Linked DNA regions of Homo sapiens. The protein of the gene in region 1 interacts with the protein of each later gene in a biochemical or structural test. Each region holds a gene or a part of one and is shown in the gene's direction. Other genes may lie near its edges. The genes, in order: APBA1, GRID2IP, GARIN6, GOPC, PRKD2, MYOT and ERBB4.

The links.
Region 2: the proteins of APBA1 (region 1) and GRID2IP interact in a test that uses a peptide from one of them, tested with the Homo sapiens proteins (one large-scale study listed by IntAct).
Region 3: the proteins of APBA1 (region 1) and GARIN6 interact in a test that uses a peptide from one of them, tested with the Homo sapiens proteins (one large-scale study listed by IntAct).
Region 4: the proteins of APBA1 (region 1) and GOPC interact in a test that uses a peptide from one of them, tested with the Homo sapiens proteins (one large-scale study listed by IntAct).
Region 5: the proteins of APBA1 (region 1) and PRKD2 interact in a test that uses a peptide from one of them, tested with the Homo sapiens proteins (one large-scale study listed by IntAct).
Region 6: the proteins of APBA1 (region 1) and MYOT interact in a test that uses a peptide from one of them, tested with the Homo sapiens proteins (one large-scale study listed by IntAct).
Region 7: the proteins of APBA1 (region 1) and ERBB4 interact in a test that uses a peptide from one of them, tested with the Homo sapiens proteins (one large-scale study listed by IntAct).

Annotation. Positions count from the first base shown.
Region 1 is NC_000009.12:69,445,372-69,448,871, reverse strand, and holds part of APBA1 (amyloid-beta A4 precursor protein-binding family A member 1), read left to right. Parts: intron 1-3,500. UniProt on the Homo sapiens protein: Putative function in synaptic vesicle exocytosis by binding to Munc18-1, an essential component of the synaptic vesicle exocytotic machinery. May modulate processing of the amyloid-beta precursor protein (APP) and hence formation of APP-beta.
Region 2 is NC_000007.14:6,541,462-6,544,961, reverse strand, and holds part of GRID2IP (delphilin), read left to right. Parts: intron 1-3,500.
Region 3 is NC_000012.12:99,646,433-99,650,552, forward strand, and holds GARIN6 (Golgi-associated RAB2 interactor protein 6), read left to right. Parts: upstream 1-1,320; 5' UTR 1,321-1,742; coding exon 1,743-2,357; intron 2,358-2,855; coding exon 2,856-2,966; 3' UTR 2,967-3,682; downstream 3,683-4,120.
Region 4 is NC_000006.12:117,571,512-117,575,011, reverse strand, and holds part of GOPC (Golgi-associated PDZ and coiled-coil motif-containing protein), read left to right. Parts: intron 1-1,379; coding exon 1,380-1,545; intron 1,546-3,500.
Region 5 is NC_000019.10:46,696,615-46,700,114, reverse strand, and holds part of PRKD2 (serine/threonine-protein kinase D2), read left to right. Parts: intron 1-2,264; coding exon 2,265-2,382; intron 2,383-2,880; coding exon 2,881-2,958; intron 2,959-3,500.
Region 6 is NC_000005.10:137,866,485-137,870,659, forward strand, and holds the start of MYOT (myotilin), read left to right. Parts: upstream 1-1,375; 5' UTR 1,376-1,469; intron 1,470-3,956; 5' UTR 3,957-4,167; coding exon 4,168-4,175. UniProt on the Homo sapiens protein: Component of a complex of multiple actin cross-linking proteins. Involved in the control of myofibril assembly and stability at the Z lines in muscle cells.
Region 7 is NC_000002.12:211,378,010-211,380,802, reverse strand, and holds part of ERBB4 (receptor tyrosine-protein kinase erbB-4 isoform JM-a/CYT-1 precursor), read left to right. Parts: 3' UTR 1-2,793. UniProt on the Homo sapiens protein: Tyrosine-protein kinase that plays an essential role as cell surface receptor for neuregulins and EGF family members and regulates development of the heart, the central nervous system and the mammary gland, gene transcription, cell proliferation, differentiation, migration and apoptosis.

The DNA of each region.
Region 1 (3,500 bases):
TTGCTGAATGCATGGCCAGTGTGACCAGGATGTTCCTCCTCCATGATGGCATCTGTAGACCCCAGTAGCTCTGCACCAAGTGCTGCGGTACTGTAGCTAGACTGAGATTCCACAGCGTTTTTTGGGGTCCTGTAGGGGTTTCCTGAAAGACTTAGCTGGAACATAGCTGTGTGCGTATGTGCATGTGTGAGAGAGAGGGAGAAGGAAGGGGATTAATTCGTGCAAATAGTCATTGTGAGCAAAAGAAAAATCACAAAGCCAGCCTCCTCAGCTAAGGGGGTGGGGGTGGGAGGTGAAGGTGAGTGTATAGGACACATGGATGGTGACTTTTTGTTTTTAATGAAATGGAGTAAATTCTAATTTCACATAAGATAATCACATCTGGAAAGAAATAGTCCTCTTTGGCCTCCTTTAATTTCTTTTTCTTATATCTTATACTTAAATAAATTCTACCTCTTGCTTAATACACGTTAAAGGTAAGATTAGAGAATCAACTTTGAACATGGATATTCATTCAGAAAGGTTTAATTGGGCCTCTGTGAGGCACTGAGCTGCGCTCTGAGGAAGCTGGCTTGCCAGTGTGCATGTGCAGGATAATTAGAGACGTGCAAGGGCTCTGCGGCCAACATAAAGGTGAGAGGCTACAAGTGATTAGATGGACAATTTTATGTGATTTTAAAGTTGACCTTGAAGGAATAAAACCTAGGTAGGTAGCAGAAAGGGAAGTGGCGTTTGGAAGTTTCTGCTTGAATTGATGGACAGGGGCCGGTGTTGAGTCAGGGAGAGATGGGGTCTGAGCCTGGCCCGGAACGGCTGGTCTGGTGTTGCTGTGATTGCATGGAGAGGCAAGCGGGGGGGTGGGGCTAGGGAGGCAGGACCACAAGTCGCTCCTGCCAGTGAGCAAGTTGCTTATTAAACACCTTGGGTGCATGCATGAGAACTGCTGAGGGGCTGTGGGACCCAGGGGCCCCGTGGACACAGTCCCTGCCCCCCAGGGAGCTTGGTCGGTTTGAGGAGAAGTGAAAGGACTTATGGCTCACAGTGCTCAGTGCTGTGTGTCTGTGCTCTGGATGCTCTGAGAATATGTGTGGACTGACTTGCTGAGCCTTCGGGGCAGCATTCTGTGGGCAGGTACTATTTTGTACCCATTGTACAAGCTAGGAAGCTGAGGCACAGCAAGATGATGTAATCGTCTGTGGTCATACAGCCTCCAATACAGAGTCATCCCAGGGAGGGTGTCAGGTGAAATGCTAGGCCCAAGGCCAGACCATGGGGCAGTACTTCTCAGCCAGGGGTGATCTTCATCCCCCAAAATGTATGGAGACTGTTTGGGTTGTCACGGAGGAGAAGGTGCTGCCAGCATCCAGTGGGTAGAGGCCAGGGATACTGTCAAACATCCTACAATGCACAGGACAGCCCCACAGCACAGAGTTATCCAGCCCCAAATGTAGGTAGTGCTGAGGTTGAGAAACTGCCTGAGCGGCATAGGAGTTCAGATGCAAGAGAGAGAAATCGATGAGAGAGGGAAGCTGGTTAGGGATGGTTTGTGGGGAGTTGGTCTGAGTCTAGAAGGGTTGGGGAGGAGGAGCGGGGATAGGGGGTTAAGTAAAGTATTGAGTAATATTTGTGTTCCCTCCAAATACATATTGAAACCCTAATCCCAATGTGATGTTATTTGGAGGTGGAGCCTTTAGGAAGTGATTAGCAGGAGGGTGGAGCCCTCATGGTTGGGATTAGTGCCCTTAAAAAAGGGACCCCAGCAAGCTCTCTTTTGGTATGTGAAGATGCTAGAAGTTGGCCATCTGCAACTCAGAAGGGGCTCTTGCCAGAACCTGACAGTGCTGGTACGCTGAGCTCAGACTTCCAGCCTCCAGAACTGTGAGGGATAAATGCCTGTTGTTTATAAGCCACCTAGTCTGTGGTACTTTGTCATGGCAGACTAAGAACAGACTCAGACAAGGGGAGGACTTAAGTAAAGGTGGGGATGGGGCCTGGGCAGGAACAAGCCGCGCTTCCTGAGGCCCTTAAGACTCCAGCTCATGGCCTGGAGTCACCTCCTTTCCTCCTCAGGACAGCCCACAAGGGGGACAGCAGATGCTAGGTGCACAGATGGGCCATCAGAGACTCTAAAGGCACAGGAGACTTGCCCAGGGCCCCCAGCTGGCCAGTGAGTCCCCACCCTCCTGCGAATCGCTCCTTCCTTATCTGCGTGGGGACCAGAGGAGGGAAGCAGTGAGGCTATGAGGGCAGCCTGACTCCCTCTGCAGCTGCCACAGCATCAAGGTGGAAGCAAAGCTTGCTGGAGTACAGACGGAGCTCTGTCTGCACAGTTTCCTAAGGGGAAATGGATTGTTTGAGGAGCTGAACTTTGATGTCTATAAATGTAATCTCTATAGAACCAGAAAATTAAAAGGCCGAGTGGTGATAAAAGAGATGTAACTGATGAAGATGAAGAGTAAGAAAAGAAAAGCAGTGCTTTCGTGGCCACCCATAGTGAAGAAGTACTTAGCAGGGCAGACCCCGATTAGAGCACAGCTGAACTTCCTCCCTGCCACAGTGCGCCGCTTGTTGAATGGGGAAATGTGATGGTCCGTCCGTGGACCACCCTGGCTGGTGGGAGGTGTAACCACTGATAACAGCCAGAATCACCAGTACCAAATACAGACTGACATCAGTGGGTCGTATCACCTTTTTAAAATTCTCTAGAAAACACACCCCTTTTTGCCTGCACCTGGACAGATGTGCACACTGCCCTACCCCCACCCCTCGGGCCACTGCAGAGCAGCATCTGGACCACTTCAAGGCTGTGTTCAAATTTGTTTCAGTGTATGTCCATGCTCTTTGCAGTGACTTTGACAAGCAACTCTCATCCTGATGAATCAGTGCTTCTCAAACTGATTGGAATCACCTGGGGATCTTGTTAGAATGCAGGTCTGATTCAGCAGGTATAGGGTGGAATTCTGCATTTTTGGCAGGCTTTGCGGCGGGGATGGCATCACCAGTCTGCAGGCTACACTTTCAGGAACAGGGATCCAAAGTGTGCATTCTGCATCTGGCCACTTCAATACTGGTTGACTATTGTCCCCCCAGGTTACAGGAAATCAATTTCTAGAGTAGAATTATAGGTATTGACTTGCCTTACTCTTCCTACCTTATTTTTTGGGTCATAATTAATTCCCAAGGCATAATTATTGGTGGGTGGAACATTTTACAGGCTGCCTCTTTCTGTGCCTTTGCCTCTGTGGTCCTGCCCTCTGGGTTTTTGCTCTGTTTTAGAATAGCGCACAGCTTCCCTTGCTTCCCCAGGAGCATCATGGTTCTGCTCTCCCGTTGCTATAGAGACCATTCTGGCTTCTCTTTTCTCTCTTCGCCCCTCTTCTCTGGGCTTCCCCTCCCACCAGATTTCTTAATTTGCTGTACCGTTCCACTGTTGTCATGGGGACCAAATGACCCTTTATTTAATTGGCACCTCCAATAAAATGGCAGCTCAGAAATCCAAG
Region 2 (3,500 bases), on another chromosome or scaffold:
GCGCCCGCCATCACGCCCACCTGGCTAATTTTTTTTCTATTTTTAGTAGAGACGGGGTTTCACCGTGTCAGTTGGGATGGTCTCGATCTCCTGACCTTGTGATCCGCCTGCCTCGGCCTCCCAAAGTGCTGGGATTACAGGCATGAGCCACCGCGCCCGGCTGTCTTTCATTTTTTAGAGACAGGGTCTGGTTATGTTGCCCAGGCTGGTCTCCAACTCCTGGCCTCAAGTGATCCTCCCGCCTTGTCCTCCCAAAGCTCTGGGATTATAGGCATGAGCTGCTGTGCCCAGCTTGTTATTTATTTATTTATAGCCTGAGAGAGACTTGAACATTTATATAAGCTGCAGGGAATGGAGAAGTAGATATACTGAAAACCATGCAGGCCGGGCACAGTGGCTCACACCTGTAAACCCAGCACATTGGGAGGCTGAGGCGGGTGGATCACCTGAGGTCAGGAGCTCGAGACTGCCTGGCCAACATGGAGAAACCCTGTCTCTACTAAAAACACAAAACATTAGCTGGTTGTGGTGGCGGGTGCCTGTAATCCCAGCTACTCAGGAGGGTGAGGCAGGAGCGTCGCTTGAACCCGGGAGGCAGAGGTTGCAATGAGCCGAGATCATGCCATTGCACTCCAGCCTGGGCAATAAGAGTGACACTCCATCTCAAAAAAAACAGAAAGAAAAAAGAAAAAGAAAACCATGCATTTACCAGTCATTGATCATGGGCCTATGATGTGCAGGACAGGGGAAACAGCCATGAACAACACAGGCAAGGAGCCTGACTTCACACACCTAACATTACTGCAGGGAAAGAGACAGTAAGCAAGTGGATTAATCAATACACAAGCTATTAAAGATCATGACAGGCCAGGCACGATGGCTCAGACGTGTAATTCCAACACTTTGGGAGGCCGAGGTGGGAGGATCACCTGAGGTCAGGAGTTTGAGACCAGCCTGGCCAACATGGTGAAACCCCATCTCTACAAAAATTACCAAAATGAGCCGGGCGTGGTGGCATTTGCCTATAATCCCAGCTACTTGGGAGGCTGAGTCAGGAGAACTGCTTGAACTCAGGAGGTGGAGGTTGCAGTGAGCCAAGATCCCACCACTGCACAGAGCGACAGAGTGAGCGACAGAGTGAGACTTTCTCTCAAATAATAATAATAATAATAAAATTAAATTAAATTAGCCAAGCACAGTGGCGTGCACCTGTGATCCTGGCTACTCGGAAGGCAGAGGTGGGAGGATCGCTTGAACACAGGAGTTCAAGGCCACAGGGAGCTATGATTGCACCACTGCACTCCAGCCTGGGCAACAGAGCAAGACCCTGACTCCAGAAAAAAAAAGATGATGATGAATAAAGTGGAGGCATAAATAGGGTGAGGTGAGAGTGACGCAACCCACTTTGACAGGGTGGCCAGGAAAGGCTGCCTGATGAGATGATCTTTGAGCTGAAAGCTGAATGACAAGTAGGTGGCAGGAAGAAAGGGGTGGAGACTGGGAATGGTGAGGTGTCTGTGGCCTGGTGATTTGGCCTTGACTACAAAGGGGGCTTTTTTTTTTTTTGAGACAGAGCCTCGCTCTGTCACCAGGCTGGAGTGCAGTGGCACGATCTTGGCTCACTGCAACCTCCGCCTCCCAGGCTCAAGCAATTCTCCTGCCTCAGCCTCCCGAGTAACTGGGATTACAGGCGTTTGCCATCAGATGCTCAGCTAATTTTTGTATTTGTAGTAGAGATGGGGTTTCACCATGTTGGCCAGGCTGGTCTCGAACTCCTAACTTCAGATGATCCACCCACCTTCGCCTCCCAAAGTGCTGGGATGACAGCCGTGAGCCACCGCACCCGGCCGGAAGTGGGCCTCTTCAACCTCTGAGAGCAGAGGATGGAAGGGAAGGATGCGGAGTCTGTTGAGAAGTTTGGAGGTGGATGAGGGTGAGAGAGGCGGGGCCTGACAGCCCCAGTTCAGGCTGAAGTTGCACCCACAAGTCCTCGAGAGAGGGAGACGTGAACGACTCATGGACTCACTCAGCCGCCCAGCCTTGCTTCAGGGTCAGCTCCAGCTGTCAGTGCCCAGAGACAACCAGACCCTCAGCCAACAAGGGAAGGGTCTCATGGAGTATGTGCTTTCAGTGGCTAAACTGTATGACATGTGGGCAATTCGATGGTTTTTAATATATTCACAGGATTGTAACACCCATCACTACCATCCATTTTCAAACAATTTCATCACTCTAACAAGAAATTCTGCACTCCTTAGCCATCACTCCCTATTTCATGGTTTTATTTTCTTATTTATTTATTGAAATGGGGTCTTGATCTGTTGCCCAGACTGTATAGTGCAGTGGCACAATCTTGGCTCACTGCAGCCTCAACTTCCTGAGCTCAAGTGATCCTCTCACTTCAGCCTCACAAGTAGCTGAGACTACAGGCATGCACCACCACATCTGGCTAATTTAAAAAAAATTTGTTTGTAGAAATGGGGTCATGCTATGTTGCCCAGGATGGTCTTGAATTCCTGGTCTCAAACAATCCTCCTGCCTCGATCTCCCTAAGCACTGGGATTACAGGTGTGAACCATTGCCCCCAGCCCTGCCAGGATCTTGCCTCCCACCTACTTTGGGATTTTCTTTTTTCTTTTTTTTTTTTTTTTTTTTGAGATGGAGTTTTTGCTCTTGTTGCCTAGGCTGGAGTACAATGGCAAGATCTCGACTCACTGCAACCTCCGACTCCTGGGTTCAAGCGATTCTCCTGCCTCAGCCTCCCGAGTAGCTGGGATGAATAAAGGCACCCACCACCACGTCTGGCTAATTTTTGTATTTTTAGTAGAGACGGGGTTTCACCATGTTGGCCAGGCTGGTCTCAAACACCTGACCTCAGATGATCCGCCCCCCTTGGCCTCCCAAAGTGCTGGGATTACAGGTGTGAGCCACCGCGCCTGGCTGAGATTTTCCTCTTTGTTTTTGGCCTAGATAGCCAAGAAACTACAAATATCTCCCACATGGATGTACTGCAATTATTTAGCCCCCACTGTCAGATATTTATATTGCTGCCAACGTCTTAGTGTTAGAAATAATACACAGGTGAACCACCTCACTCATACATCATCGTGCATGTGTCTTGTCAGGATGTGTGTAAGATAAATTCCTACATGTGAGATCATTGGGTAGAAGGATGGGCTTTGGACACACTTAACAACCTGCCTTCCAGAAACGTGACCATTTGCATGCTCATTTCCAACATGACCATTTGCATGCTCATTTCCAATGTGCCCATTTGCACACTCGTTTCCAACGTGTGCATTTGCACGCTCGTTTCCACCATGTCTATTTGCATGCTCCTTTCCAACGTGATCATTTGCACACGTTTCCAACGTGTCCATTTGCACGCTCATTTCCAATGGCCACACACTCCTGTGTGCAGATGTGCCTTGATTAGTATCAGCTGGTTTGTGGACAAAGACAAAAGTTTGGAGAGAGAACTGAGGGAGTCAAAATTCAGG
Region 3 (4,120 bases), on another chromosome or scaffold:
GAATCACGAGGTCAGGAGTTCGAGACCAGCCTGAGCAATATGGTGAAACCCCATCTCTACTAAAAATACAAATTAGCCGGGCGTGGTGGCACACGCCTGTAGTCCCAGCTACTAGGAAAGCTGATGCAGGAGAATCACTTGAACCCAGGAGGCGGAGGTTGCAGTGAGCCAAGATCACGCCACTGATTCCAGCCCGGGTGACAGAGTGAGACTCCATCTCAAAAAAAAAAAAAAAAAAAAAAAAAAAGACTCAACTATGGCTATGGCTCTGTGTGTGTGTGTGTGTTTGTGTTCACATGGGTTATCATGTGTACTGTCATTTCAATAAAGATATTATAATCTTATTGAATTGAAAATATTTGCAATACCTAGCAAAATTCTTTACAGCTTTTTTTTTTCTCAATACAATCTGATGGTAAAGAATAGAGCATAAATGTGATGTTTAAGGCTCTTTTCATTCCATAGCCAGGGTATGAATGTCTAGGTAAAACTCAAAAATTGCATCAACAGTTTGAGGGTGAGTCAAAACATAAAATTTATCATGGCTATAGAAACAGAAAAAAAAAAATACATTGCCAATAAAATAGTTATTTCCCCTGGTAACAGAAATAAATTTCCTAATAAAAATAGAAGTTAAAAAGAAAATGAAAATTATACCTAAGCACTTTAAACATTTCACTGAACATAATTCCATATCCACAAACACATACACGTGGTCTTACATAAATTGAATCTCACCTATACTATGAGTTTGAAATCAGTTTTTCTCTTATTCTTTAAGAAAAAAAAAGGTCAGGGATATCTTTTCATGTCAATAAATAGGAAAACTACGTAATCATTTTTAGGGCTGCAGACTGTCCCGTCACAGAAGCTCCATAATTTATTTAAGCAATCCCCTATTGTAAGACACTAATGCTGTTTATAATTTTTTACTCTACAACAAACATTGATAAACATCCTGTACCAATCTGTTTACCAATTTATCCAATTCTCTCTTTAAAATAAATGTCTACAACTAGAGGAGCTGGATAAATGAGTATACAGAGAATGTATATTAAACTCTTGCCTTGCACAGAAAATTTACCTCTAACCCTTTTGAAAGCAATTTGCCAGAATGCATTAAGGTCCCTAGATGGTAGGTTGGTGGCGGGGTAGTGGTCTGCTGAGCTGTGGAGGGCGGTGGGGCTGAGGGTGGGGTGGAGAGGGCGGTGCCCCTGCTCTGAGGCAGGGACTACTGGGTGACAGAGACAAAGGGGTGTGTGATGGGGCAGGTCACAATGGGTAGGGGAGGATAAAAGTGGTCCTGCGGGGTGGTTTAGCAGCAGTGGATGGTTCAGGTTGGGAAGAAGAGCAGTGGGATTGCCAGTTAAGGTTGTGGAATCAAAGAGCAAAGGCTGTTGTGAAGTGGAATATCAGGCTCAAATGGAGGTCCCTCCCGAATGAGCACTGACACCTGTGTGCCCGGACATCCACGAGGGCCCCAACACCTGTGCTCCTGACAGCTCCATGCACTAAGCAGGGCACAGTCTGGATCCAGGGGACTGACTGTCTCTGGCATTGAGCGGTTGGTAATCAATACCCCACCCTCCCTGTTCTCAGTCACTTGGGGACAAAAAAGAAAGCCTGCAGAACACGACTGCTGGCCCACCTGCCAGAGTAGCCAAGGAAACAGGATGCCCGCTAAAGCATGTTAAGGAAGGTGTGGAGCAGCTGCTGGGAACTGTCTTGATTTAAAGGAAGACATGGAGGACTGCTGTATGCTACCGTATTACACGGCCCAAAGCAGCCCCGCAATGGGCATGTTTAACACCTCCATGGGGAAGCTGCAGCGGCAACTGTACAAAGGCGAGTATACTATATTCAGGTATGCACCCATGTTTGAGAGCGACTTTATCCAGATCAGCAAAAGAGGAGAAGTGATTGACGTGCACAACCGTGCCCGAATGGTAACAATGGGCATCGTTCGCACCAGCCCCTGCCTCACACTACCTGATGTCATGCTGCTGGCCCGACCAGCTGCTGTCTGTGACAATGCCAGGTGTGGTCCTGCCACCCAGAAAAGAGAAAGTCCGCCTGCAGAGATCTTAGAACTAACCAGGCTGCTTCCCTTGATGTTTGTGAAAATAACCATCCACAACAGCGTAAAAAAACAGCTCCACCTGAAGCTTGCCACGGGCCGCTCTTTTTATCTTCAGCTGTGTCCTCCATCGGATGCAAGTGAAGACCTTTTTGTTCACTGGGAAAACCTTGTTTACATCCTGAGACCACCAGTGGAGGCTTACAGTGATACCAGGGCTATCCTAGCTGGGAACACATTGGACTCATCTGTGTTGGAGGAAGTGCAGAGGAGCCCAGTGGTGAGTCTATGCAGAGACTAGATGGGGCCTGGATGCTTTGGGGGAGAGCAGGTACAGGTCCTGTAAAGCCTTTGGTGCTGCAGCTCACCTGGGAAATGCATTGCATTTGGAAGGTCTGAAGGCCAAATGAGCTTCCATTTGGAGGCCATGGTACATTGAGGAGGTTCCTAGTGCTTCTCCAGGGTTCTCCAAGCCTGAATTTCAGAGATTTCTTAGCTGTCAGCAACTCTTCATTTTATATCCACAGCTGTTCATTTTATATCAATGTTGTAATGCTGTCCAAAGCATCCTGACCAGTCTATTCTGAAACACATACTATGACCTAGGCAGGCTGATATGTTGTAGGACGTGTCTCCCTGCAATTGCCACTTATATACATTGGTGGCAACACAACATGTTTGTGTACTTGTGCAATAATTTCTTTTTGTTGTTTACCTATAGGAAGAGAAAGGAGATCTTGCTGGTCTCACTGTCTTTGCTTATTTGTTCTCTCCCTAGGGATATGCCATGAAGTTTTGTGAAGAGAAGGAGCAATTCAGAATCAGTAGACTTCACATGAATGCTGAAATGTTTGGGTCCACCTATTGTGATTATACAATAGAGATATGAATCCAACATACCTCCCACATATACTACGTTCAAGAGTTCACACACCCCTGCAGTCATAAAACCTATAGTGCCTGATGAAGGGGCAGGGTAGCAACAGCAGTAGTGATGACAGTAAGCACCACCACAGGTACCATGGATGTGGCTGCAACCAAGTCTGCAGACTCAGGAGAGAAACACAGCACTGGCAAAAGCAGCCTTCAGAGGTCCAGGAGGAAGTATAGCCAGCATGGCTATTAGTGGGTGCTTCCATGTCTTAATCTTGTTATAGCAAGGGCTGCATGCACATTCTTGTCCTAAAAGGGTACTTCAAGCATATCAGTAAGTGCTACTGGCCTCTCCCTAGAGAGCAGTATGAATGTGGTGGCTACAGGAGCAGAGAGATACTGAGAAGGCTGTTGCATTGACAGTATCTCTCTGCTACTCAAAGGCTGACTCTCTGCTACTCAGCATTGGGAGTCAGTTATCTCAACTCTGCAGGATGAGGCCACATGCGTGAATGGGATGGAAGCCAGAGGGTCTCTACCTAGCTGGATTGACTCTGCAGTAATAACCTCAAAGCCCAGTACTACACATGGTGCAGAGGTGGACATCTCACCTAAGACTGTGGAGGGGAACAATGTGATTCACCATAATAAAATCCATCAACTCAAATTATCTGCTCTAATAACATATGCTCTATTGACAGGAAGGGTAGCAATAAAACTAATGGCAATTTATGATCAGGCTCTGAAAACTATCTTTAACTTTCCCTTAACTTTATATTTTTTAAATAAATTAATAGATGACAGAATAAAATGTTGAAGATTACTCTCAGATATGATCCTACATTAGGAGAATTATTCTAAAACTGTTTTCCAAAATATAAAATGAGAACCCAGGAATACACACACACAGACTCTCTCTCTCTCTCCTCTCTCTCTCCAGGTTTGAATCACAGCATTGCCACACATTAACTGTGAGTTTCAGTAGATTGTTTCTTTAAATGGTCACCTTGAGACCATACATGTATAATATCTGGAACATAGTAGGCACTGTGTAAATGGTAGTGTTGAGAAACAAATTCTGAGTTTAATCATACTTTCCAGAAAGGGCTTAATTTTCCCAGTCTCTTCATTCTTGATTTCCTTTCTTAAATCTTAATTAACTGCTTTGCA
Region 4 (3,500 bases), on another chromosome or scaffold:
TGCCTCCTGGGTTCAAGCGATTCTCCTACCTCAGCCTCCTGAGTAGCTGGGATTACAGGTGCCTGCCACCACGGCCAGCTAAATTTTGTATTTTTAGTAGAGATGGGGTTTCACCATGTTGGCCAGGCTGGTCTCAAACTCCTGACCTTGTGATCCATCCACCTTGGCCTCCCAAAGTGCTGGGATTACAGGTGTGAGCCACCGCACCTGGCCTACTCTTTTTTCTTATGGTAAATGAAGCATTAATCTTTTTCCTCAGAATTATTTTACAGTTGGTTTTAACTTACTGTTGTTAAATTAATACTGACAGCATTATGTATCGCAGATCTAGTTATCCATACTAAATATGTTTAGTTTACACACACAAACACTGATAGTATCTTACTGTGAAATGCTAACAACTCTGTAGAGCAGCACTTTTCAACTATTTTGTGCCTTGAGACCAGTACAGCCGATATTCACATGCATAGCAGAACTTCCATAAGGAATTCTTTTTATGATCACTGAAACCCAGTCTTTCTTGCCCTTCAAAAAAACGTGTTGGTATTTAGTTAATGACAATGATTTTATCATAATCATACACAGAATTCTGCTGTATTTATTAAGTAAATTATTAACAAACTTTGGTGACTTATTAGTACTAAATCATTTTGTGCATATTCTTTTAATGTCACATTAAAAACATGGAACAAAGAAAAAATAATTTATATCATCTTGAAGTACAAATTTTCTAGTAACTTTTTTTTTTTTTTAAATTTTGTGAGATGGGGTCTCACTCTGTCGCTCAGGATGGAGTGCAGTGGTGCAACGTTGGCTCACTGCAGCGTCCACCTTTCAGGCTCAAGTGATCCTCCCACCTCAGCCTTCCAAGTAGCTGAGACCACAGGCATGCCACCATGCCTGGTTAATTGTTAAGGTTTTGCCTTGTTGCCCTGGCTGGTTCTAGTAACTTTTAACCACATTTAAAGTAATCATTTTGTGAAAAGAAACTCTAATTAGAAGAAATATTTTTGTCCATTTATCTCATCTAAAAGCTAACATTTAATAGTATCTGAGTTCAGTGACTTTGCATGCAAGACATAGATTGACATTAATCTCATAAATTTTTTTTTAGATTTATTTGAATTAAGTATATGACTAAAGGAGTTCACATTAATTCCTTTAAAAATTTTTTTTACTGGTTTTTCCCTTGAGGATACCTGTTCTTTTCAGAGTTTTCATATTTTTTTTATATCTGAGAGACATCAAGAAGTTCGTGAGTATTAGTTTTATCACTAATTTGAGATTCATGCAAAAGCTACTTATGTTCACTAATTTTCCTGAATTCTCACTGTAGTGAATATAATGAAAAATCAATGTACTCTTTTCCCAATATGAAGGGTCCAACAGATACAATTGCTAGGACGAGATATGAAGGGACCTGCTCATGATAAGCTTTGGAACCAATTAGAAGCTGAAATACATTTGCATCGTCACAAAACTGTGATCCGAGCCTGCAGAGGACGTAATGACTTGAAACGACCAATGCAAGCACCACCAGGCCATGTATGTTTGCTTTGCTGCTGCTTCCCACCCAGCCTCTTCTTTCTTTCTTTAATCACAGTTGCTTTCCATTCTTTCCTTTATTCTAGTATTGTTTGAAACCTTTATTTAAAAGTGAAAATGGGATTCAACTTATTCAAAGTAGATGAAGTTTCAACACCCATAGAAATTTTAGTAGCTCTTCACAGACTTACTAATGCCCTGAGAGTGCTGCAGACAGTGAGCCATTGTTAGCAAATGCATATTGCTATAATGTTGGATCATATTTCCAGTTTTTCCTGGATCATGATTGGGCATGCTTGAATTTGTTTTAATCTTAGCTTAGAGTGTGTGGTCATATTGATAATTTGGCAGATATTTTGGGGTAGTTCTTTAAGGGAACTTTTAGTAACTGAATCCAAATGTAGATTCTGAACTAACATTTACACCTGTTTGGTCTTGGATTAAGATAGAATTTGAGATCTGTAGCCAGTTGTCTGCTTCTGTAGCCACCATTATATAAAAGCTTCTATCTGGATAAATCTTTATTGAATTTTATCATAACAGCTGCTTGATAATATAGACCTTAATATATGAAAGCATGTCTCCCAAGGGTTCACATATCTTAGTACCAGATAATGTATGGCCTTAAATAGTAAAATAGTTTGTTGGCTCTGCAAAGATTTTTGTAAGAAGAATTGGTATGTAAATAGAGTTGGTGGAAGAGAAGTGGGGATAGCGATAAGCACTTATGCCATTGTTTTCTAGGGCACTGGTGGTTCCCATTAACTTCTAGGTCCAGTAGATTTGGGAAATGGAGCGGTTAGGAGGAAGACAAAGTAGTTTGTATCAGATGTGTCTGAGTGATAAAAGCATGCTTGTTAAATTAGCTAAATATGAGGTTGGGGTTTTAGGTAGTGGCTGGATTATAGAAATTATTTTATACTAAATAGAGGAATTTTAACTTTAACCTGATAATCATGGAAGTTTTAAATAAAATGGCAGACTTCATAAAATTTACATTTTTTAATAGTTATTTTGGTATAGTGAAGAGGACCAAGTTGGAGTCAAGGAGATATATTAGAAAGATACTATGGTCATCCAAGGAGAAAGTGATGAGGTCAGGAGAAGTGGCATTTGAGAAGAAGGATAGATTTGAGAGGATTATAATCAGGAGGGCTTGATTGGTGACTAACTGCTTTTGGTTAAATAGTGAAAAAGAAGAGTCTGGGCTTTTAGTTTGAGCAACTGAGTGAGATCTGGCATTCACTGGGAAGGGAAATAGAAGAAAAGGAAGGATTTGGGGAAAAGATGATGAGATCAGTTTTAGACAAGTAGTGTTTGAGGTGACAATGGGGTATCCAAGATACATCCAACTGGACATATGACTCTGGATTTCAGAAGAGAAATCTGTTTTGAAGAAATATTAGGGAAACTATCCTTCTATTATACTTGAAACCTTGGAACTCATTAAGCCTGTTCCAAGTATATATGTATATATAAAGTATATATGTAGTAAAAAGAATAGGAGGCCAAGGATAGAAACTTATGGAGTGGGAGAAGGAAAAGGATCACTAAAGGAAGGAGCCTGGGATGGAGCTGTCAGATACAGGCCATCTAGGAAAGTAGTGTAATAAAAACTAACAGAGAGAGTGGGTTTCAAGGAGGGGTTGATGAACAGTATCAACTTTCTGCAAGTTTGAAGTAGGATAGTGACAAAAAGTGTTAATTGTGTGTAACAATATTGATTACTGGTGACCACAGAAAAGAAAATTCCAGTTGTGCATGTAGGGGCAAAACTCTAATTACAGAGACCAGAGGACTGAATGTGAGTGGCAAGGAAGTAGATATGATGAGGATGAACTTCGTGTAGAGGTTAAGGAAAGGGGGAGGATGGTAGTTGCTAAGGAAGATAGTGAAGGATTGAAAGGTTTTTTGTTTTGTTTTGCATTTGCACATGATCAGTATTTTAAAACTGG
Region 5 (3,500 bases), on another chromosome or scaffold:
ACAGGCACCCGCCCAGGCCCAGCTACTTTTTTTGTATTTTTAGTAGAGACAGGGTTTTGCCATGTTGGTCAGGCTGGTCTTGAACTCCCAACCTCAGGTAATCCACCTGCCTCGGCCTCCCAAAGTGCTGGGATTACAGGCATGAGCCACCGCGCCTGACCTATATTCCTCTTCTTTTTTTTTTTTTTTTTTTTTTAAGATAGGGGGTCTTGCTATGTTGCCCAGGGTGGTCTTGAACTTCTGCGCTCAAGCAATCCTCCCACCTCAGCCTCCCAAAGTTCTGGGATTACAGGTGTGTGCCACTGTGCCCCCAGCCTACACATTTTTAAACTATACACGGAGTTCATACTTAGTCAGCTCCACTGGAATGTGAGCTCAGGTGCATGAGGGCAAGGATATTTTCTGCCCTCCCAGGTGCCTAGGACAGGACTGGCTCAGATCAGGCACTTCCTATCTGGGTGTGGCGTGAATGTTTATTGAGAAAGCACAGTTCACACAGGCGCTGGAGGGTGACAGCCCAGATCCCAGCTCTACCACTTCACTTGCTAGGCGCTTCCCTGTGTGCCACGGTTTCCTCCTGGGGCGATGAGGTACCTACCCCACGGGGTGATAAACCTGGGGTAGGGGTAAGGGGGCACCCTCACAGGTGCACTGGAAAATATTTAATGAGCACCTGCTGTGTTCAAGCACACAGCTATGAACAAAAGAGGTAAAAGTCTGCCCTTCTGGAGCTGACTGCCTCAGTGGGGAGACAGCTAATAAATGCATCCATAGCATCGGGTATTGGTAATGGTGATAAAAACAAGAGGAGATGGAGAATGGGGGACATGCTATCTTAGGGTCCTTCAAGGAGACCTCGCTGAGGAAGTGGCAGTTGAAGGGAGGGGAGGGAAGGAGCCTTGTGGGGCTCTGGGGGAAAAGGCTTCCAGGCAGAGGCAACAGCGAGTGCAAAGGCCCTGGGGTGGAGGCACCGTGTTCCAGGGACAGCAAAGAGACCCATGTAGCTGCAGCAGGGAGGGCGAGGGGAAGAGGGTTGGACAGAAAGGGGATGGGTAAGCCAGTCACAGTGACGACAGAGTGTTTCCTGCGGTGCCTCCCAACCCAAGCAGCCTGAAGCCGCAGGTTCCCTTTCTCCCACGTCTTTCCTGGGAATGCCTAGTAACACCGTCATACACTGTCAAGAGTTGGACCTTGAGGGATTGGGGGTGGCGGGTGTGGGGAGAGGCAGCCCATTTCACAGATGGGGAAACTGAGTCTCAGGCAAAGAGATGTGATCAAGGCCACCCAGGTTCTGATCTAGCACAGGGATCCAGAGATTGTTGGTTCCAGAGTTGAGCAAGTCACTTAATCTCTCAAATCTCAAACTCCTGACCTCAAGTGATCCCCCCACTTCTGCCTCCCAAAGTGTTGGGATTACAGGCATGAGCCACCATGCCCAGCAGGCCACTTAATCTCTGTAGACCTTCCTTACTGTACTAACAGCATCTGCACAAATGAGGGAGGTGAGGCCCAGAGAGGTTGAATCACTTACCCAGTGTCACACAGCTGGCTCCACAATTGCTGGACTAAATACCAATTAGCACTTACTGGAGGTCCTCTGTATGCCAGGCACTGTACTAAGCTCCGTAGAAAGGTTTCCATTCCTCATAGCATCCCCTTTGGGTGGACAAACTGAGGCATGAAGAGGTTAGGTAATTTGCTAGGCAGCCTGACTTCAGAAAGGCCTACTACAGAAGCCCTCTCAAGAATCTCCTTCTGGGCCAGCGTGGTGGCTCACACCTGTAAGCACTCTGGGAGGCCGAGGCGGATGGATCTCGTGAAGGGATTCTAAGGGTGGGACTAGGGGCAGGAGTTAGGGAAGGAGTTGAGGCAAAGAGTTCGAGACCAGCCTGGCCAACATGGTGAAACCTCATCACTACTAAAAATACAAAAATTAGCCAGGGGTGGTGGCGTGCACCTAATGGTCACCGTGATTGTCCCGGCCACTCAGGAGGCTGAGGCACGAGAATCGCTTGAACCCGGGAGGCAGAGGTTGCAGTGAGCCGAGATCGCACCACTGCATTCCAGCCTGGGTGACAGAGCGAGCCTCTTAAAAACAAACAAAAAGCAACTCCCGGGTGTGTGTTGGGGGGAAAATGTCAAAACAAACCAAACAAACAAAAACAGTCCCCAACTCCCTAGTTTCCCAGAGATGCCCCCTGCATTCCCAAGCAGCATGGTCACTTTCTGCATGTGACTTCTCACCCCTTCCTCTTCCTTCGCAGCTCCCTGGGGTACATCCCCCTAATGAGGGTGGTGCAATCGGTGCGACACACGACGCGGAAATCCAGCACCACGCTGCGGGAGGGTTGGGTGGTTCATTACAGCAACAAGGACACGCTGGTGAGTGGCCGGGGCGGGGCCGGGTACGGCGGAGCGAAGGCTGGAAGAGGGGCGGCTCAGCTTGAGTAGGCGGGGCTAGGTGGGTGGGGCTGGAGCTAGGCGCGAGCGGGGCCAGTAGTGGGCTGGGCCGTGCTGGAGGCGGGGCTAGAATTAGAAGTGTGGGCTGTAAGGGTGGGACTACGGGCAGGAGTTAGGGAAGACCCGGGGCTCAGGGCAAGGTCAGGGGCGGGGCTAGAGTTAGGGGAGGAGCTTGGCTGGAGGAAGAGGGCTAAGTGGGGGCGAGTCTGGGGTTAGGGCGTGGGGGCTGGGCTAGGGTTAAGGCTAGGGGCGGGGCTGGGGTTAGGGCGTGTGGTGGGGTGGGGTTACGGCGTGGGGTAGGTGCTAGAGTTACGGCGTGCACGTGGTGCTCCAGGCACCTGGAGCCCCAAGCAGCTCCACGGGATAGGGACTGGGCAGGAAAGTCTGGCGGTTCACGTGACTCTTCAAACATCTCTGCAGAGAAAGCGGCACTATTGGCGCCTGGACTGCAAGTGTATCACGCTCTTCCAGAACAACACGACCAACAGATACTATAAGGTAAGCCTCCGGGCTTTCAGCTCCCTCGGACTTCCCGCTGTGCCCACAAACTTTCCCACACCTCCTCCTACCCCCAGTTACTCCAGACAGATCCTGCAAATCACACCCTCTGCCCACCCCCAGCCTCCCTGCTTCCAGCTCATCAGCAAGTGCTGCCCATCCGATTCTGGCCCCACCACTTTCCAGCCAGGGGGACTCCGGGCAGGTTCCCTTACTTCTCAGTGCCTCACGCTTCTCACCTGCAAAATGCCTCAAATGCTAATACTCACCTCAGGGCTGGTGCGAGAATTCAAAGAGCCAATCCACTAAACCAATTGGCTTAAGGCGTGGTATATATTAAGCTCCCAGTAATTCTAAGGCTGTTCTCACTATTCCTTTATTTTTTGTTATTTATTTATTTTTTGAGACAGAGTCTCACTCTGTCGCCCAGCTGGAGTGCAGTGGCGCGATCTCGGCTCACTGCAACCTCCGCTTCCCGGGTTCAAGCGATTCTCCTGCCTCAGCCTCCCACCCTAGGACTACAGGTGAATGCCACCACACCC
Region 6 (4,175 bases), on another chromosome or scaffold:
TAAAATGCTTGAAGGAGTGTCTTACTCATAATAAATGCTATATATTGGCTATTATTACTTTTATCCTATCACTTGCATTTGTATTTTAAGTCTCTCTAATTTAGATGGAAAGGTTTTGTCTGTATTACTGGAATTTGAAATATCAGTGAACAGATGTTGAAGAATATTTTGGGAGACTCCTGAAATAAGACTTTGTAGGCAACCACCTACTCACCAAGTCTAGCATGCTTTTTCTACTAAGGGCTGCACGCCCAGGCAGAAATTATCAAGCTTTCTTTGAACACCAAAGAAAGGTACACCTACTTGGCCAGCTGTGAAGGATTTTATATGGCTCATATGTGCTCAAACATCTATTTGCTGGATTCTAATATACATGTTAATTCAATCAAGATTGGGGTATCTACCCATGAGGGAGGGGAACTGAAGCCACCCCATGGAGATAATTCTACTCCCTTGGCCCAATCCTCATGCCACCTACCCTACTTCACCACATTTGCTGATTCGACATTTTATTCTTCTGCAATTATTTACTTCCCTGCACAAAAATGGAAATCTAAATACCATGATGGTCTCTGTGACAAAAAGTGAAAGGAAACTAACTGTTAGGAATAAAGGGAGATGAACATGCATTGACAGCTCTAATTATATAGATTGCTTATTTGTTTGGTTGTTTCTTAAGTGTTTCAAAACTCTTTCAGAATAAAAGTACTAGGCAAAAGGGGCATATGCCATACAGATTCAGAAAACTTGCTCAAGAAACACCATCATGTTTTTCCACCTCCCTACCTTCCCAGTGACATGTCACTATGACCTCGGTCTCCTGCTTTGCCCAGACTGCCCTCCACCTCGGAACAAACTGCTAGTACTGAGAGACCTCAAATCTATTATTGAATCCTACTCTCATTAGGCAAAAGAAAAAAGACTTCAGATGAAGAATTATGCAATACAAATCAATTGGGAGCCCATCTATCACTGGTCTTATTCCTGGAGAAGTCTTAGTATAATAGATAGAAGAACTCCACTCTTGAAATATTATTTTCCCTTTAGTCCTCTCTCTTAAACTGGGAAAATTCAAAGTCCCCACCATAATAAAGAAATAAGAGGGTTTTTTTTCTATTTTTCCCATTTCCCTATTCACTGCCCTTCCCTCACATGAGCTTGCTAAAGTTCATAGTCAAAATTCACGTCTGAAATAAAGAGGCTTGCAAAAGAAGCTCATGTAATCCCACTCCTTAAATACCACTAAGACACGTGAGATATTGTTTAGATTGTGGACTCTTACTTTGACATGCCAGCATAGGTAGATGGACAGGCAAGCACATCAGATGTCACTGTTTGGCAGCTGATAAAAGTCAGTGGTGCTATAATACTAAGCACAGAGCCACTAGATTAGTCTGTGAGGGAAGGAGATGCCTCTTCCTTCCCTTCAATAGTGGGTTAAACCCAGCTGGCACCCTCTGGAACTACGGGTAAGTCCCTTCTTTATTCCTACTACACTTTTAGGTCTTGTTTTTGTTTTTTGTCCAAATCAGATGAGTGTATACAAAGATGATTTTCAGATAAAAAGTTTGAAAGCCACAACATTATAATGGTATTACACAAAAATTTAAAGAGAAAGCGACTCATTCATTTCATTGAGACTGGAAGGCATTATACAAATGATAGAAGGAAAGATAGCTGTGTGTCATTATTTTTAAATCACCATTTTTCCTTGAAAAGGGACACTTGATCTGATGTAATTGTGGTGATGTCTTATGAACGCAACATATCCTCTATCAGTCTTCTGTGCAAGTCTATGCTATATTAGAGACAGGAAAAAAATGTTAAGATTTTTTAAAAAGGAGACTGAATAGTACTTTATTTATAAAAATCTTTGAAATTCATTTAACATTATTTGGAATAAAATGACCCTGTCATATAACAGAATCTATTATAGAATTAAATTGTTGAACAGTAACTACAAACATAAAGAAAATACAGGATCACCTGCGTAAATGTCTGCATAAAATTTTGACACATGGATAAAATGAAACTTATGAAATAACATATTTTTAATTGGGCTTTTAAAAATATCACTAATTATTAACAATGTAGGCCAATATCAACATGTACAAGACAGTTGCCATTCTGAAAATATATGTAAAGAAAAAAAGAGAACTGTTTCTGGAAAATATCTACTATTTCATAAGCGGTTTATTCCTTGCTATCTGAAATGAGTCTCAATAATGTACCTGCCCAGAAAGAAATTTAGGAATCAAACTCTGGATTCAATTCTGCAACAGACTGAATAAACCGATAACTACAAAACTACTTGCCTTGAAATAGACTTTTTTTTTAGATCTACTCAAGGCCCTCCTTCAGGATGTTTTTCCCCAACAATTTAAATGCCTAAAGTAGTTCATTTCTAAAATGCATTCTAGTTTAATGTATTTGTGTTCATAAACTTGAAATTAAGGAATATTTAACTTTTTAAGTATTCTTTCTCAATAGCGTCTTTCTCTTGGCTGTTTAGTTGCATTTCTGTTTTTTCCTAAAATTGCTAGTTTTAATTTAACTCTAAACTACATAGGCAACTTTGAAATACTATTTTTTGAAGGTATCCTATTATTTAGGATGAAACTCTTTGGTCTGGAAAAGTTTTATTAACATTTTATCCAAGACAGTAACTAAAATAATTAGAAGACTTCGTTTCAATGATGACAAACAATTTGGTTAATTTTTCAGTTAAAAGTTTGATTTGTCATTATCTCAGTATTGGCTTATACCAGATGAAACAAAATAGGCAAATGTATTTTGAATCAATTTATCTGATATTTTCAATGAAAACAGGATTAGTGTGAAAACAATTTATAGGACTAGTCTTTGTGTGTAATGTCTATATATAGTCCCGCTTAGGTTTACCATACTAATGGAAAAAAAATCAGAGACAAATATAATCCTTCAAGGTTGATTTTCATGGCAAATGTTTCATCTGAGAAAAAATGAGGATGTACTGTAGGAAGGCAGGAGGCCCACTACAGAGCTAAGTAGGAGGAATGGCACCTGTCTTTTCTTGGTAAGGTATAGACTAGTTTCATATGTGTCTTATTTACTTCTATGCTTCCTGTTTGCCATTTGAAAAGAAAAAGTAAAAGAGCTAAAGCAATTTCAAAATTAGTCTGAGATCTCCAAAGGTGTGGCAAAAAAAAGAAAAAAAAGACCAAAAAACAAAATTAGTCTAAAATACATACTAAACAAATAATAAAAAGTAAAACTCTAGATAATTAAAAGAACATCAAGACCAACAACTAGGAAGTATAATCTAAAAATAACAGAATTATAAGGTATGATTCTGTTTAAAAATACATAATAAAAACAGAAAAATGTATAAGTGGCTCTGGAATGCAGCCTGTAACATATGTTCTACACAAACATATACACACAGTCACTCCTTAATTAATATCTAGTTTAGTAATATGGTCAATTTGGAATCAAGGAGAGAAAAAGAAGCAGTGAATTGTAAGGTTAAAAAGCAATCCACTCAGCTGGGTGCGGGGGCTCATACCTGTAACTCCAGCACCAAGGGGGGCTGAGGCGGGAGGATTGCTTGCAGCTAAGAGTTTAAGACTAGTCTAGGCAACATAGTGAAACCCTGTCTCTACTAAAAAAAAAAAAAAAAAAGAAAGAAAGAAAAAAAGAAAAATTAGCCAGGCGTGGTGGCTTATATGTGTAGTCCTTACTCTGGAGGGTGCAGTGGAAGGATCGCTTGTGCCCAGGAGTTGGAGGGGCTACAGTGAGCTATGTTCGCCTGGGCGATTAAGCAAGACACACACACACACACACACACACACACACACACACACAAAAGGAAGGAAGGAAAGAAAGGAAAAGAAAAAGCACATCAGATCTGAAAGATGTCAAATAAACAATGTTATTGTTTAAGCAAATATTGTAACAATTATTTTCTCCTTTTGAAGGAACAATATTCTTCAAGAGAAGGTCACTCTACCAAAGCCAGGAGCACAGTATTCTCAGGATCTCAACAAGGAAGAGCAGACCAAGGTTGCTTCTGATTCCTTACAACCTTCCGTAATTCCAGGCTTGTGGCCCCAAATTCAGGGCCCCACCCTTCCAGGAACAAATCATTATAGTAATAATTTGCCTTCATCTTCCATATACCAACTAAGCATGTTTAA
Region 7 (2,793 bases), on another chromosome or scaffold:
GAACACAAGACTTCTACATGTTGGGTAATACCTAGAGATGCATGTAGGAATAATCCAAAATGACCCAAATGCTTTATAATAGCACCACTTTATAATTCTTTTGAATGATTTCTGTAGTATATAATTGACTTCAGTTGTTTGAGTGTTTTTTGTTTTATTTTTGTCCCCCCTGGGAAAACATATTTCAGCATGTATAAGAGGGAGAAAAAAAGTTTCATTCCTTCCAGAGAATAACTTATTTAGTCCAGTAGGGTAGAATTTTAAAATGTCAGTTAAAGTCTTCAAAGTGCTTGGGGGGATATCAGATTCCAGAGGCCAATTGTAGCAATTGAAATTTGCAGAATCAATTATGTAAATCTGAGACAAATTAGTATTAAAATTACACGGAGTATATTTTTTAAATCACCCAACTTTGTAGATTATACCTATTTTGGGCAGGTATGGAAAAATTTTGCAGTTAAATGATTGCCTAAAGAAAGTGGTAAACAGGTGAGGAAAGATGGCCTCTGATCTAGGATAGATCCAGAACCACAAAGCATCTGCACCACAAAAGGTGTTAGACTACCAAGCAGCTCCTGGTTTTCTGCATAGTATTAGTAGCACAGCTTAGGATGAGAATCCTTTCTCCAGTAACATTCTTAAAATAGCATGAAAAACAACGCAAAACTCAAATTTCTATTAAAACACACAAACTAAAATCAAGTGATTCTTTTTTGTAGATTAGGGAGAAGGACTGAATATCTAATTTAAGAGAAGGAATAGTGTTTAAGTGTTATAGTGTGTGAGCTAATACCTTCTAAAGGAAAGACATGGCATGAAGATTGTGCATACTTACAATGCTAAGGAAAAATCAAGAAAAGGACTGTGTGAGGCTCTGCTACTAGATGAAGTTGGAAGGACTATTAATGTGCTTCTTGAAGTATCAAAAATGAAAAGAAAATTAAAATTGTTTAAGCCTGACAGGGAAGGATGTAAATACAAGTTTTTCTAGAGCTCTCTAACCTTTATTTCAAAACTGGAATTATTCATCCATCTGTAATTGTTGATAATTTAACTAGTATATGTAGTTCATAAGGTAATAGAAAAGGTGATCATGAAAGCATGTATATAACTGGACAGAACCACGATAATGCTATAAGATGTAGATTTAGTTAGGTTATCAGATGTTAAATGATTTTAATATTATTAAATAAATCAAACTAGAAAACTAACCACAAGTATAATGTAACAAAGTTAAATGCAGGATATAAAAATGTAGGATGGATTTTGCATAGTAAAAAGATAAGTTTGCCATTTAAAATTGTTGTTTGTTGGGTTTAGCTGAAAGTAGGCATATATGGTTCCACTTGGGAAAACTTGCTTTAAAGCATTACAATGAACAATTTTTTCTCATTCTCTTATTCCTTTATCACTTTTTAAATGTAAAGAAAATTGTATTTATTTATTTTTTTAAATAAACACCACCTTGCAGAATTTAATAGGCAAACATGTTACATATGACTAAGTAAGGGTCTTCAAGATGAAGTAAAGAAAATGTAAATGTTCTATTACCTTATGCAGAGACAAAAAAAAAAAGGAGTGGTGTCATTTAGCTAGCAAACAAACAAAATACAGTTAATTGGTGATATGTCCTTTCTTTTCTCACTATGCCCTCTTGCCTCCAAAAATGACAACAAAGAATCACAATTTTTCTGATAAATAAATGCTAAACCAAGCGTTTCAAACTATTGCATTGCCATTCTTTTGGACTTTAGTTATTAGAATGATGATTGTTATAGGGCAAATGAGAAATCCATGTGCATCAGCTTCTAGTTGTTAAAAAAACCAGATAAATTAACTTCTACTGTATACTGTGGGCAGAGGATCCTAGAGCTGATCCTACAACATCAGCTTCTAGTTGTTAAAAAAAAAAAAAGAAACAGATAAATTAACTTCTACTGTATATACTGTGGGCAGAGGATCTTACTGTGCCTCTGTTTGTGTACATGGACTTCGGTGTGTATCAGTTTGAAGGACAGCCTTGCCCCATGTAAACATATAAATGCAGATTGGTATCGCCTGGTTGCTATTTGCTTAAGAACAAATATTATACAGATGAGATCAGGCATAATTTTAAAAGATCATTATCAGTGGAGACCTCATTATTACTGATATTACAATGGGGCCAGTTTTTATACTTCTGGGTAGAATTAATAAAATTTTTCTGATCCCAGAGATCTGAGTTCTCTCTGCAGTTGGAAACAAGAAGCTGTTGTGGGCATTGTGTCGGGCCAGGGGCCCTTGTGTTTGTGTGGGCAAATATCTTTTAGCAGTGTGAGCTGCTTTTTTCTTTTCATTAAAAGTCTCTCTAAAATAATAGAAATTTCAGATACTCGGTTCAAGTCTCACTGATTTTGTAGAGGTCCAAAAATGTAGGATCTGTCACTTTTGCAGGCCCCTGCCTCACCTAATTCCTGGCCAGGTGACATTTTGGGCAGAAGTAAATGCTTCTATAGTCACAAGCTAAAATGACTCTAAGCCCCAATTTCACGGGGGGTATTCACATGCTTCCTCTGGAAAATACTCTTTGACAGTCAGCTTTGCAAGTAAGTGATTACCTTGTTAGGAATCAAAGAAAAATGTATTTCTCTCTGACCTTTAGAGGAAAATAGAATCCTTCCCTTTTTTGCCCATTGACACAACTGGCACTGCTCTCTTCCCTTTCTACCACCCTGGTTCAAAGTAGTCCCCCGATGCTGTCCTGTTCCTTTCTTAAGCCATAGTGGATCTCTGAGATCCTACACCCCACTTTGT